Linked DNA regions of Homo sapiens. The protein of the gene in region 1 purifies or fractionates together with the protein of each later gene. This does not show direct contact. Each region holds a gene or a part of one and is shown in the gene's direction. Other genes may lie near its edges.

Region 1 (3,560 bases):
GTCAGTTGCAAATAACTGACAGGAAACAGTTCTCAGTGCCTTAAGCACATGTGCACAAACACATACACACATACACATGCGTGCACAGCGGGGGGGCAGTGTATTGTCCGGCTGACCAAAAAGATCCAGCGTGGCCAGGAGAATCTCGTGCCAGGCTGAGGCAGAAGAATCTCTTGAACCTGGGAGGAGGAGGTTGCTGAGCTGAGATGGTGCCACTGCACTCCCTCCTGGGCGACAGAGGCCACTGCACTCCTGCCTGGGCGACAGAGTGAGAGACAAAGGACAACACCCTAGTCTCCCTTCCTGGCTCTGCATCCCGCCGTGCCAGCTTCACTCGCAGGACCCACAGCATAGCCCGGGAGGCAGCGCTGCACTTACAGCCCCCCAAGTCTGAGTCTCCCTTTCCAGCTGTCCCTGGAGATTCTAGACCTGTCCATCATCGTATCAATGGCCATATCTCTCAACCCATCTCTGTGGCTGGGGAATGGGTTTTGCTTATCAGCTTGGGCCTGGGTCACATGCCCACCTCTGCAGCTGGGGCTAGAGTCAGACCCACCCAAGTGACATAGGCAAGCATTGGGGAGATATGGCTTCCAAAGGACATTTGGGGTTCTGTTACCAGAAAAGCTGGGAGCAGATGCTGGGAAGAAAACAACGGATGTTTGCTACAGTGTATTTTAAACTAAACTAGACAGGTTCATCCTGGCGCGGTGGCTCATGCTGTAATCCTAACACTTTGGGAGGCTGAGGCAGTCGGATCATCTGAGGCCAGGAGTTCAAGACCAGCCTGGCCAACATGGAGAAACCCCGTCTCCACTAAAAATACAAAAATTAGGGTTAGGGTGGCGCTTGTCTGTAATCCCAGCTACTTGGGAGGCTGAGGTAGGAGAATTGCTTGAACCCGGGAAGTGGAGGTTGCAGTGAGCTGAGATCGCTCTTCTGCACTCTAGCTTGGGCGACAGAGAGAGACTCTGTCTCAAAAAATAAAAATTTAAAAAAATAAATAAATAAAAATTTAAAAATCAACTAAACTAGCCAGGTTCAAGGTTGCTCTAGAATAACATTCTTCGTGGTTGTAATTGGCTGTGCTTCATGGGGTGGAGTCCGGGCAGCGCTCTGAGAAGTGCGTGCAGCCTAGGGCCTTTCTCACCGAGAGCTCAGACCGAGGTCTCCATGAGCCCCGGGGAGCAGGAAGCCACTGAACCTCATCCTGGGTGTGTTGAGACAGAAGGAAAGGCTGAGAACTGCAGATTTAGAGATTGCTAAGGCAAAGGAAGGAGATAGAAAAAGAAAAGGAATCCTAGCATCTTAGAGCTGGAGAGGATCTCACAGAGCTGTGCTCTCCAACACAGGAGACTCTGGCCACGCGTGGCTATTGAAAATTGAAATATGGCTGGGTCCGAAAGGAGATGGGCTGTCCATAGGAAGTGCACTTATCATCAAATTGGATTTTTTTTTTTTTTTTTTGAGACGAAGTCTCGCTCTGTCGCCCAGGCTGGAGTACAGTGGCGTGATCTTGGCTCACCACAACCTCTGCCTCCCGGGTTCAAGTGATTCTCCTGCCTCAGCCTCCTGAGTAGCTGGGATTATAGGCACCCCCCACCACACCTTGCTAATTTTTGTATTTTTAGTAGAGATGCAGGTTTCACCATGTTGGCCAGGCTGGTCTCGAACTCCTGACCTCAGGTTATCCACCTGCCTCAGCCTCCCAAAGTGCTGGGATTATAGGTGTGAGCCACTGCACCCAGCCCGATTCTGTTTATTATTTATTTATTTTTTATTTATTTGTATTTATTTATTTATTTGAGATGGAGTCTCGCTCTGTCGCCCAGGCTGGAGTGCAGTGGCGCCATCTCTGTTCACTGCAAGCTCCGCCTCCTGCGCTCACGCCATTCTCCTGCCTCAGCCTCCCCAGTAGCTGGGACTACAGGCGCCCACCACCACACCCAGCTAATTTTTTTGTATTTTTAGTAGAGAGGGGGTTTCACTGTGTTAGCCAGGATGGTCTCGATCTCCTGACCTCGTGATCCACCTGCCTTGGCCTCCCAAAGTGCTGGGATTGCACGCGTGAGTCACCACGCCCGGCCCTGAATATTTATTATGAAAAAAAGAATGTATAATATCTCATTGATTTTTGTATGTTGGTTACATGTTGAAGTAATATTTTGGGTTACTGTATAAAATTTTACTTGTTTCTTTTACTTTGTAGTGTGGCTATTAGGAAACTTTAAGTTGGAGTGTGGCTTGTAGTTGTGTCTCATAAGATACTTTTTTTTTGACACAGGATCTTGCTCTGTCACCCAGTGCAGTGATAACGATCATGGCTCACTGCAGCTTCGAACTCCTGGACTCAAGTGATCTTCCCGCCTCATCCTCCTGTGTAGCTGGGACCACAGGGGCGCACCACCATGCCCAGCCAACTTATTTTTTGTAGAGACAGGGTCTCACCATGTTGCCCAGGCTGGTCTTGAACTCCTGGGCTCAAGCAACCCACCTGCCTTAGCCTCCCAAAGTGCTGGGATTACAGCGTGAGCCACCACACCTGGCCTCACAATATACTTTTATTGGACATCACTGTTGCAGATCTAATGCGGTGTAAAATGATTTTTAAGTGCACACTGATATAAGAAATAACATTGGCCAGGCACAGTGGCTCATGCCTATAATCCCAGCACTTTGGGAGGCAGAGACGGGTGGATCACTTGAGGCCAGGAGTTCAAAACCAGCCTGGCCAACATGGTGAAACCCCCTCTCTACTAAAAATATAAAAATTAGCCAGGCGTGGTGGTGCGCACCTGTAATCCCACTACTCAGGAGGCTGAGGCACGAGAATTGCTTGAACCCGGGAGATAGAAGTTGCAGTGAGCCAAGATCATGCCACTGCGCTCCAGCCCGGGTGACAGAATAAGACCCTGTCTCAAAAACAGAACAAAGACTAAAACGTTTTGGAACTAGACAGAGGTGATGATTGCACAACATTATGAATGTACTAAATGCCACAGAATTGTCCAGTTTAAAATGGTTAATTTTATGTTATGTGAATTTCATCTCAATTTCTCTAAAAAGGTGAGTTGATCTTAAAGTATTACATGTGAGGTACACAGGTGTGTGTGTGGGTGTTACGGTACAGGAAATGACAAAAACTTGAACACCCCTGTTGTAAGCCATCCCTCTTGAGGGAGTGGGGACTTTGAAGACCTGAGAGAAGTCCAGGCACAGTGGCCCATGCCTGTAATCCCAGCACTTTGGGAGACCGAGGTGGGTGGATCATCTGAGGTCAGGAGTTTGAGACCAGCCTGACCAACATGGTGAAACCCCATCTCTACTAAAAATATGAAAAAATTAGCCAGGCGTGGTGGTGCACGCCTGTAACCCCAGCTACTCGGGAGGCTGAGGCAGGAGAATCACTTGAACCCAGAGGTTGCAGTGAGCCGAGATCGCGGCATTGCACTCCAGCCTGAGCAACAGGAGCAAGACTCCATCTCAAAAAAAAAAAAAACCTGAGAGAAGCCCCTTGGTCCCAGCCTTTCTCTGACAGCAGTGGTGACAGGCTCAGCTCT
Region 2 (3,560 bases), on another chromosome or scaffold:
TGGCCTCCCAAAGTGCTAGGGTTAGAGGTGTGAGCCACCACGTGTGGCCGGATGGGGAGTATTTTATATTTTAGGCTGGGTGGCAGGATTTGTGAGTATTCATTTTACTTTTCTATATCTTTTATTATTCTCTGGATTTTTTTTCTGGGTCTAAAATTTGTTATTGCATAAACAATTAGAACTAAAAGAAAAAAAAGCCTTCAGCTAGGGGGTCGGTTGGAAACGGGAGATGAGGCCAGGAGCCCAGTGAGGCAGCCAGGCAGGGACTCTGGCAGGAGCAGGCAGGGTCATGGGGAGGGAGACAGATCCTGGCTGCCCCAATAGACAGTGAGGGTGTGAATGGGATCCCAGCATTCCTTTCACCATTCCTTGCTTCCAGGTGACCCTGCTGGACTTTGGTGCAAGCCGGGAGTTTGGGACAGAGTTCACAGACCATTACATCGAGGTGAGTCTCCCCCAGACCCCAGGGCCTCTGAAAGGCTGAGGCTCAAGCCATATACTGAGGCAGAGGAGTAAGAAGGCGAAATGCAGTTTCTGGAATTAAGAAATAATAAATAATAGTAATACTCGTAGCAACTAGCACACACCAAGCACTTAATATGTCAGGCTCCATCTTTAGTGCTTACGTATAGGAACCGATATAAACCACACAGCAACACAATGCGAAAAGGACCGTTTTTAGGCCCGTTTTAGGCCAGATGAAGTAACTGGGTCCTGGAGGGGTTAAGTCACGTGCCCAAGATCACAGCAGACTTGGGATTCAAATTCAGGTGGTCCAGGTCCAGAGCCCAAGCTTCCAACCACTGCCCAGCTCCCTCCTAAGAGAAAGGCCCACAGTGACCATCTTGTCACCTCTCCAGACCCCATGCTGTCCAGGGCCCTGGTGTCCAGCCCAGGTGTGTGTCCCTGGGGGCAACTCTGTCTACAGGAGGTGTTTCCTCACGTACTTGGCTCGTCTCTCCCACCCACTGGGGTCAGTTTGTCTTAGAGGCTGCAGAGAATACCATTTCATTCGTTGTTGAGATTGGACATTTGCCCTGGGTCCTCTAATCATGTAGCCATCAATCTAAACGTTTTCTTTTCCTTTTTTTTCTTTTCTTTTTTTTTTTTTTAATTGAGACAGAGTCTTGCTCTGTCGCCCAGGCTGGAGTGCAGTGGCTCGATCTTGGCTCACCACAACCTCCACCTCCTGGGTTCAAGCGATTCTCCTGCCTCAGCTTCTCGAGTAGCTGGGATTACAGGCATGTGCCACCACGCCCGGCTAATTTTTGTATTTTTAGTAGAGATGGGGTTTCACCATGTTGCCCAGGCTGGTCTCGAACTGCTGACCTCAGGTGATCCTCCTGCCTTGGCCTCCCAAAGTGCTGGGATTACAGGCATGAGCCCTCCTGCCCAGCCAATCTAAATGTTTTCTGACCCCTCCTCTGTGCCCAGCTCTATTCTAGGCAAAGCTGGAGACACAGCAGTGACCTGGGCCCAGCCTAGGCCCCTCCTCACAGAACTCATAGTCAGTGAGGCGACAGTGAGGACCTAGCATGGACAGGGCTGGGATGGGGGAAGCGCAGGGCACTGTGAGCCCAGAGGAGGAGCCTGAGCCAGCCTGGGGAGCCAAGGAGGGCTTCCCGGAGGAGGGAGTGTCAGCATTGAGACCTGAGGGATGAGGGGGGCCAACTGGGAAAAGGCTCGGAGGGTATTTCAGATAGACAACATGTGCCAAGACGAGGCAGTGATAAGGGACAGTCCCATTAGAGCAGCATTTCTCAGACTTGGATGTGCATGTGAAGCCTGGTGATCCTGTGCAAGTGCAGATTCTGGTCTGGAGGTGGGTGTAAGATGCTATGTTCTGACACGCACCCATGTGAGGCCAGGGCTACCCGTATGGGGACCACACTGGTAGTAGTAAGGCCCTAGAGCACCCAAAGGAAGCTCCCATTCTGAGTGGGAGGGCAGGTCGGGGGGCAGCACAGTGACGAGGCTGCAGCAAATCACTGCGGATTTTAGAGGCTGCGCTCTACAGCTCGTACTGTATCCAGGTGCCCTGCGGAGCCGTGGAAAAGATTTGAGCAGGGAAGGGATGCAGTCAGAATTTGAAAACTCCCTCTGAATAAGAAGTGGTCTCTAAGCCTGGGGGTGGGAGCTCAGGGCAGCTGTGGAGAGGGGCAGAGGGGTGGCTGGGAGATGCCCAGCTGGCAGTCCATGGGAGCAGACGGGCTAGAAGTTGGGGACAGAGGTGTCTAGGGGTCTGGTCTGGGGACTGGTGGGGCCACCTCTGAGACAGGAACAGGAAGAGGAGGTGATAACCCCTTACACACAGGCCCCTTGGGGCCCTCTCTGCCGGCCACTGAGGCACAAAGCTGAGACCCTTCTTCTCCCCACTGACACCCTCCCCTCCCACCCAGGCCTGCAGCCTTTGCCACTTTATAAAAGCCCTGGCTTCTGAGGACCACAGGCCTGACAGATGGCCAGACATGCTCGGGCAGGGGGAGCAGAGAGGGAATGGAATTAATCCCGAATCCCCCTCCTCACAAAAAAGGGCAACCCAGTAGTGAGTGGTGTGACCCGGTTCCACTCCCTACTCCGGGTCTGCTTCCCCTTCTGTGAAATAGGGACCCCCGTGCCCACCTCTTAATAATGGTAGATTATAGTATTTACGGTGCTTCCTGCATGAGACACAGCGCCAGGCAGGCCACAGGCATCACCTTCTTTATCCTCCCAACAGCCCCATGAGGAAGGCACTTTTGGCATCCCCACTTCACAGATGAGAAAGTGGAGGCCCAACAGGCCGGCAGGTGGCAGAGCTGGGACGGAACCCTAGCCAGCTGGCCCCAGCTGGGCATCTCTCCATGCCCACAACTCCTGCCCTGTGTGTGTGAGCTCATGGCTGGAGAGCTGCTCTGCTCCACACGCTCATTTGCTAAAGCAAGGTTCACCCAGGGCCTCCTCAGCACCAGACCCTGTGCCCCGTGCGACTAAACCCAACTGGGATCCTTGCTCTCACGGGGCTCAAAGTCCAGTGTGGGAGACAGAGAGATGGCCCCTGGCAACTTTGGATGCAGTTCTGGGTCACGCTCATACCCGTCCAGTTGAGTGTTTGGACTCACCAGCAGCCCTGACACTTGTTTCTTGCACTGTTTCACTGTGGCAGTTCCCGGGCAGGCCCCACATTGCCCTCTAGGTGGGCAGGATCCCTAACCACCTCCACTCCCAGGCTCTGGAAGAGTCTTTAAGGGAGTCACAGACAGGCAAAGTTGGGAGCAGGAAGCTTCCAGGTGAGGGAGGGCCCAGGCAGATGAGAATGGAGGTGGGTACATGGGAGGCCCAGGCTTCCAGCTCCTCTTCTCCAGAGCCCCCTTGAGCCCCGGCCTTTGTCCCTCTAACTCCCACCCGTCTCCCCAGGTGGTGAAGGCTGCAGCTGATGGAGACAGAGACTGTGTCCTGCAGAAGTCCAGGGACCTCAAATTCCTCACAGGCTTTGAAACCAAGGTGGGGAGACACTGGGGGAGAAAGGGGCTGGTGTCTGTTGGTGGGGTGCAGTGGGGGGCTGCTTATCTCCACTGAGG
Region 3 (3,560 bases), 2.4 Mb from region 1:
AACACGTGCCGCAGTGCAGAGGGTGTGAGTGAGCAGCAAGGAGCCTGCCCCTTTGACAAAGCTTTCTCGGTCCACAGACAATATTGACTCACGCCTACTCCAGAGTGGTCCTGAGAGTCCTGGAAGCAGCCGTGGCGGCCAAGAAGCGATTTAGTGTATACGTCACAGAGTCACAGCCTGATTTGTCAGGGCAAGTACCTTTCTGTTCAGTTATGTGCCCAGCCATAATTTTACAGAGCAAACTGCGGATTACAGTCCAACAGGATCAGAACCAGAATGTGCCCCCAGCTTGCCAGCAGTCAGCACTGCCTTTCATTGTACCTTTTCCTGCCTTTGGAAGAAAAATCACTGAATTTGCAGCAGGCCGCAGTATATGATCTAGGGGTTTCACTTAAGTAGTTAACTCCGTGGAAGAGCAGAGATTGTATTGATGAAGATTTTTATCAAGGAATAGGTAACTTATATCTCCCTCTCTCTAGACGATAATCAAAGCAAAACTTCCTCCTTTTTTCCTGAATTTACATCTCTTACCCAGAGTCTAAGAGTATAGTTTTCCAAAAATACTTCTTTCTAAAGAACTCAAATTCTTGTTTCCTTAGTCCAAAGTATTGGGATCTGCCCCTTAACCCATTAGTATTAATGTGAGTTTCAAGCAAACATCCACTGTCCACATTAGGTGACATACATCACTGTGGTACTGTCTTGTACTTTCTCTAACGTTCTCAAAATGTCATCTTCAGTAAGAAAATGGCCAAAGCCCTCTGCCACCTCAACGTCCCTGTCACTGTGGTGCTAGATGCTGCTGTCGGGTGAGTGCCCATCTTCCCCAGCCATAATCACCTCCCCCACCCCATGCTGGCTTACAGCAAGTTTTCAGATTGAAAGTTTGAGTCCCGTTCATAAAGCCACACCAGGTAGCGTCCTACTTCTTAATTAATAGCTGCCCTAAACCAGCAAGCTTGTTATGAGGTTGTGATAGCATACAAAGAAGACAGAGCTGTAGGATGTTGGGGAGAGTGGGAGTTGTGTCTATAGCTTTATGGCTGTAAGTGTTGAGTTTGTTGTTGTTGTTGTTTTTGTTTGTTTGTTTTTTGTTTTTTTGAGATGGAGTCTTGCCCTGTTGCCCAGGCTGGAGTGCAATGGCATGATCTTGGTTCACTGCAATCTCCACCTCCCAGGTTCAAGCGATTCTCCTGCCTCAGCCTCCTAAGTAGCTGGGATTACCGGCGCATGCCACCATGCCACGTTAATTCTTTTATATTTTTAGTAGAGATGGGGTTTCACCATGTTGGCCAGGCTGGTCTCGAACTCCTGAACTCAGGTGATCTGCCCGCCTTGGCCTCCCAAAGTGCTGGGATTACAGGCGTGAGCCACCACGCCCAGCCAGTGCAAATGCATTTTAAGAGCAAAGTACAAAGGTCAGTTGGGATCAGCAGAGGGTAATCAGGGCTCTGTATTTCTGTGAAGACCTGGCTGTCCTCAGTGGCATACTGGGATGCTTTGTCTCACCTAGAAGATGCAGCTTGTGTCGCAAAGCCAAGTCACATGTTCCTGGGATTGTCAGTGTATTTCCCAAGAAAAAACAAGAGTAGTGATCTCTTGGAATGAAAACAAGATAGATGATTAAGGAAATTAGGAATGTGTTCAAAAGTAAGGATTTTGAGGAATTCTACTAATTGCTCATTTTAAAGACTAAATTGGCCTTCATCCTACCAGAAAGATTCTTAAGGTTGGGCACAGTGGCTCATACCTGAGGCAGGTGGATCGCTAGAGTTCAGGAGTTGGAGACCAGCCTGGGCAATATGGCGAAACCCCATCTCTAGGGCATGGTGGCATATGCTGTGGTCCCAGCTACCTGGGAGGCTGAAATGGGAGGATCGCTTGAGCCTAAGAGGTAGAGGTTTGGGCTGAGATCATGCCACTGCACTCTAGCCTGGGCAACAGAGTGAGATCTGGTCTCAAAAAAAAAAAGAAAGATTTTTAAAACTGCATAACACTTTTGTCCAACTTCAGATCTCATCAGATTTTAAAATTTTGTTTGGTTTGTGCTGAAGTAGAAAAGAAAGTAGAGGATACCACACTTGGAAGGAAGACTGCTGTGTCAGGACATTCTTGCTTCACTTACACACATATGTACGTGTGCATGCGCCGGGCGGCAGTGTGAAGTGTATGTCTCATTGTAGGGTCATGACCAGAAAACACCCCTGGTAACAATGCCAGGGGTCTATCGCGTGTTAAGTGCGCTTTAAAAAAAACAGGTAGTTATGGGAGGAACTTACCTTGATAGAAATGGAATATTGATCTTTGCAGATGATGATGCTACTCGTTAGAGCCAAGAAAATAAAGCATGAAAAGCTTTTTTTCCCCTTAGCTACATCATGGAGAAAGCAGATCTTGTCATAGTTGGTGCTGAAGGAGTTGTTGAAAACGGAGGAATTATTAACAAGGTAAGAGCATCAGTTCTCCCCAGTTCCCTGCTCAAGACTTGGAGGTGTCTTGCTGACCTAGGACACCACAGCAGTGTTGATTATGGTTCCTTCTAATCCTGCTTCACTTCAGGACTTCATCATGGTATTGAGTTGTTGCCCATTTCCCGTAAGTCATAGCAATGGGCAGTCCAGTTTCAGTCAAATCTTTTTTAGATTGATCTACATAAATGAAGACAATGTAATTTGGTCAGGTGTGATGCCTTATACCTGTAATCCTAGCAATTTGAGAGGCCAGGGTGGGAGGATCACTTGAGGCCTTGAGTTCAAGACCAGCCTGGGCAACATAGTGAAACCCTGTCTCTACAAAAAATTAGAAAAATTAGCTGGGCGTGGTGGTGCTTGCCTGTAGTTCCAGCTGCCCAGGAAGCTGAGGCAGGAGTATCACGTGAGCCCAGGAATTTGAGGTTGCAGTAAGTTATGATCACACTACTGCATTCCAGCCTGGGCGATGGTGAGACCCTGTCTCAGTAAAAAAAAAAAAAAAAAAAGTGTAATTTATATTTATACAAAATTGGCTTGAATTGGAATTGGGGTTTGTCTGGTTTTTGCTTTATTTATGTGTATATGTATGTTTTATTTATGCATATATATACACACACATAATATATATACACAAATATTTTTAAAATATTATTTATATATTTACATATAAAGTATGTATGTATAAAATACGTGTATTTATATATAAATATTATATATATTTTAAAATAGAGACACATTCACTCTGTTGCCCAGGCTGTAGTGTAGTACAGTGATCATAGCTTACTGCAGTCTTGAACTCCTAGCCTGAAGCAATCTTTCCACTTCCCAAAGTGCTAGGATTACAGGCATGAGCCACTGTGGCCGGCCTGTCATTTGTTTTCATTTTAATTGAGCACATTTGACCTCAATTTATTACAATCTCTCTCTCCATTATTTAATTTAGAAAAGCTTCATGAAAGCTTTTTTTAGTTAAAATATATGTAACATAAGGCCGGGCGTAGTAGCTCACGCCTATAATCCCAGCACTTTGGGAGGCTGAGGCAGGTAGATCATCTGAGGTCAGGAGTTCGAGACCAGCCTGGCCAACAT
Region 4 (3,560 bases), on another chromosome or scaffold:
GATCTTGCTCTGTCACCCAGGCTGGAATGCAGTGGCATGATCTTGATTCACTGCAGCCTCAGCCTCCCGAGTAGCTGGCTCATTCATTTTTAACAACCCTGTGAGTTAGGTAATAGTATTCTTGTTTCATTTTTTTATATGCAGAAACTGAGACCCAGAGAGGTCAGAAGTTAAATATCTTTCCCAAGACCCACATTAGGTGGTAAAGGAAGCATCCAGGCCTAGGCATTCTGAATCCAGAGGACATGCTTTTAACCCCTCTGCTACAGAAAGCTTATATTTAAAATAAGAAGGTGAATTAAGAAGCTATTTCTTAAGTGGATAATTAGCACAGAAAAGAAGAAAAAATATCTATAGATACTGATTAATGCTATTACTTAGTATTAGTTTTTATTTTTAGTTGAAGACCCTCATGTGAAGATGAAAGGAAGAATAGCATGCTGTTGTGGCAGGCAGCAAAGCAGGAGTGGGCTGGTTTTCCCAGGGTACTCAGCATTTACTGAGATAATAAACATGTAATGCTGTTTAATATTGGAGGTTTTGACTTTCTGGACATCTTGACTGTCACACAATACTAAAAGACTTCTGAATGCTCTTAATTTTACTTATCACTGCCACTAACCATCAGTAGAGACATTTATTTCTAGGGAACGGGGTGTAAACTCATAACAGTTAATAATAATATGCACAGTGCCCTACTGTCACTGCTAGTGAAAAATCAAAAGGGCAGTATACCAGACAGCCCACGGTAAAAGCGTGTGTGTGTCTAACTTTTTTTGCACTAAAAGATGTGATTTTTGCTATTTATGTTTTGGCTGAAGTACAAAAGTTAGGCTTTATAAACCGGACATGTGTCAGTGTGTGAATGTGTGAGGTTAGCCTTGATTGCTCTGCATAAGTCTAAGTAGGGCTCTGAAGTATGCAAGTGGATTTTAGTAAATGATCCAGTTGAGAATCTATTTCTTCTTGTGGTACCTTTAAGAGACTTTGTTAATTATGTATCTTTCTAAATATATACAATGAAAACAGAAAAATATAAATGACATGTAACTTTTATAATGAGTGTATTGCTCCTAGAAGCCATTAATAATAATTTACAAATATGACCTAACAATTTATCAAACCAATTTTTATTTGCACTTAATGGTTAATTTAGTGATTACTCCCTCCCTGAGATAATTGTTTTTAGTCACGTAATTTATTTCCCTATGTCTTCTCCCCTGGTATTTTTACTATCCCCAAAAGGAGTTGATAGGAGCAGAACAGATGTGAGAATGTTGGGTTTTACAAACTACCTCAAAATAATAGTGGGTTAAGACAATGATTTGTTATTTCTTTCTTTCTTTTTCTTTTTCTTTTTTTCTTTTGAGACAGTCTTGCTCTGTCACCAGGCTGGAGTGTAGTGGCGTGATGTCGGCTCACTGCAACCTCCGCCTCCTGGGTTCAAGCGATTCTCCTGCCTCAGCCTCTCAAGTAGCTGGGACTACAGGCATGTGCCACCATGCCCAGCTAATTTTTTGTATTTTAGTAGAGATGGGGTTTCACCATGTTGGCCAGGCTGGTCTCAAACTCCCTACCTTGGGTGATCCGCCCATCTCACCTCCCAAAGTGCTGGGATTACAGGTGTGAGCCACTGCGCCCAGCCTGTTATTTCTTATAATTATATAGGTCATCTGGTCTCACGTGTTCCTGCTCAAATGGTATAGGCTGGGGTCACAACAGTGACTACATTCTGCCAGACCACAACTGGGACTGGAATGTCCTTGAAAGTGTCATCTTCATGTCTGGCACTTCACCTGGGGTGACCAGGATAGCCAAGGGTTGGCTGGACCTCTCTCCATATAGATCACTTGGCATTTGGTAGTCTTAGCTTGAGCTTCTTTACATGGTAGCTAGATCCCGTGAAAGTGGAAGCTGCCAGGTCTCTTAAGACCAGGGCCCAGAACTGGCACACAGTCATTTCCACAACATTCTATTGTCAAAACAAGTTACAAAGCCAGCCCAGATTCAAGGGGAGGAAAAACAGACTCCACCTCTTTCTCTCTCTCTCTCTCTCTTTTTTTTTAATAATGGAGACAGGGTCTCACTGTGTTACCCAGGCTGGTCTCGAATTCCTGGGCTCAGGCAGTCCTTCTGCCTCAGCCTCCCAAAGTGTTAGGATTACAGGTGTAAACCAGCATGTTTGGCCCTGACTCCACCTCTTGATAGGATAAATTGTTAGTGTCTGTCTTTGCAGACAGTCTACAAAAAATTCAAATTCAAGTCTTACCTCCTATACTCACCAAACCTTCAGAGTTTTAGTCAAACCAATAATTACCAAAGTATTTTGTTAAAGGATCCTTGTAGTTCCTACTCAGGATCAAGGGCAAAGAGATTGTGTGCATAAATATAATTCTATACCAGTTAAGAAATCCTACCCCTTTGCCTCAGATCTCTTTTGTTGTTAGTCCTCTGCATGAAGCATTCTTACTAAGCATTTCCTTTGTGGTGCTTTGCATTTACAAGGCATGTTACATTCTACTTAAGTCATAAGAACCTGATTTGACCATTAAATTAGAAACACAAGAAGTGAAACTTATGTTTACTTTTACCATAACTTTCACTTTTAGTTGCTATGAGCAGAGGTTGGTATTTATTTCTTCTCTATGACCTCAGAGGTAGTATTGTGAGCTTGTCACTTAATCAGAGGGTGATTCAAGGGGACACTTCTAATAAGGCTTGGAATCTCATTGGTGGCTTGTAGGACCCTCTAGTAAGGTAGTAAGCGTTAAGGCCAGGTGTTCTCATGTTCCTTGGCAGCCACATACATTGAGATTTATCACATGATCTGTAGACCCCCACACCAACATGCTTTTCTGTAAATGTTCCTCCACCATCAGCCAGATTTTTTTTTAAGTACAATTTCCATTGTATTTTTCTCCAGAGAATGGTCTGTCTTCAGTCTTTAAGGACTCAGCTCCTTACACGGGCTTTGGTGGGGGTCGTGGGGCAGCACCCACAGGTCTAAATCGGGGTAGGGGTGTTCGGTCCTCGTGGGCTTCATGAGATTGATTCCTGACTACTTTGCTGTGAATTGCACAATTCACACAGTAATGTAGCTTCACAAACAGCTTGGGAAGCACATAGGCATTGAAGACGCTGCTTCAGAAATGTCCCTGACTGCTGTGGCCTCCACTATATTTCGAATGATGAATTTCTTAATGGCCTTGTCCTTAGGCACGCATCAGGCACAGTTCATGCAGCGAATGGCTGCACGTAACTGTGGCCCTTTTTGACATGACTTTTGTTCCTTCTTTTCTTTGTCATCTTGGAGGCATGGACCGGAGAGGAGATTCTTGAAAGAAGACTTTACATTAAGACCTCACTTTTTTTCTGTGGAATCTATATCTCTTCTCCCAAAACAACTTCATAGTCTTACGTTTGCCCTTATACAATATTTATCAAATGAGTAGGATGAGTGTGTTTGTGTGTGTGTGTGTGTAGAATGAAAGTGAATTAGCCGGCTGGGCGTGGTGGCTCACACCTGTAATCACAGCACATTGGGGGGCTGAGGTGGGCAG

The links.
Region 2: the proteins of P2RX4 (region 1) and COQ8B purify together in Homo sapiens (affinity purification with mass spectrometry; 3 studies listed by BioGRID and IntAct, with this or other methods). This does not show direct contact.
Region 3: the proteins of P2RX4 (region 1) and EIF2B1 purify together in Homo sapiens (affinity purification with mass spectrometry; 3 studies listed by BioGRID and IntAct, with this or other methods). This does not show direct contact.
Region 4: the proteins of P2RX4 (region 1) and FAM20B purify together in Homo sapiens (affinity purification with mass spectrometry; 4 studies listed by BioGRID and IntAct, with this or other methods). This does not show direct contact.

Annotation. Positions count from the first base shown.
Region 1 is NC_000012.12:121,223,624-121,227,183, forward strand, and holds part of P2RX4 (P2X purinoceptor 4), read left to right. Parts: intron 1-3,560. UniProt on the Homo sapiens protein: ATP-gated nonselective transmembrane cation channel permeable to potassium, sodium and calcium. CTP, but not GTP or UTP, functions as a weak affinity agonist for P2RX4.
Region 2 is NC_000019.10:40,692,874-40,696,433, reverse strand, and holds part of COQ8B (atypical kinase COQ8B, mitochondrial), read left to right. Parts: intron 1-379; coding exon 380-445; intron 446-3,396; coding exon 3,397-3,483; intron 3,484-3,560.
Region 3 is NC_000012.12:123,623,674-123,627,233, reverse strand, and holds part of EIF2B1 (translation initiation factor eIF2B subunit alpha), read left to right. Parts: intron 1-77; coding exon 78-190; intron 191-740; coding exon 741-809; intron 810-2,371; coding exon 2,372-2,447; intron 2,448-3,560.
Region 4 is NC_000001.11:179,032,347-179,035,906, forward strand, and holds part of FAM20B (glycosaminoglycan xylosylkinase), read left to right. Parts: intron 1-2,891; exon of another isoform or gene 2,892-3,332; intron 3,333-3,560. UniProt on the Homo sapiens protein: Responsible for the 2-O-phosphorylation of xylose in the glycosaminoglycan-protein linkage region of proteoglycans thereby regulating the amount of mature GAG chains.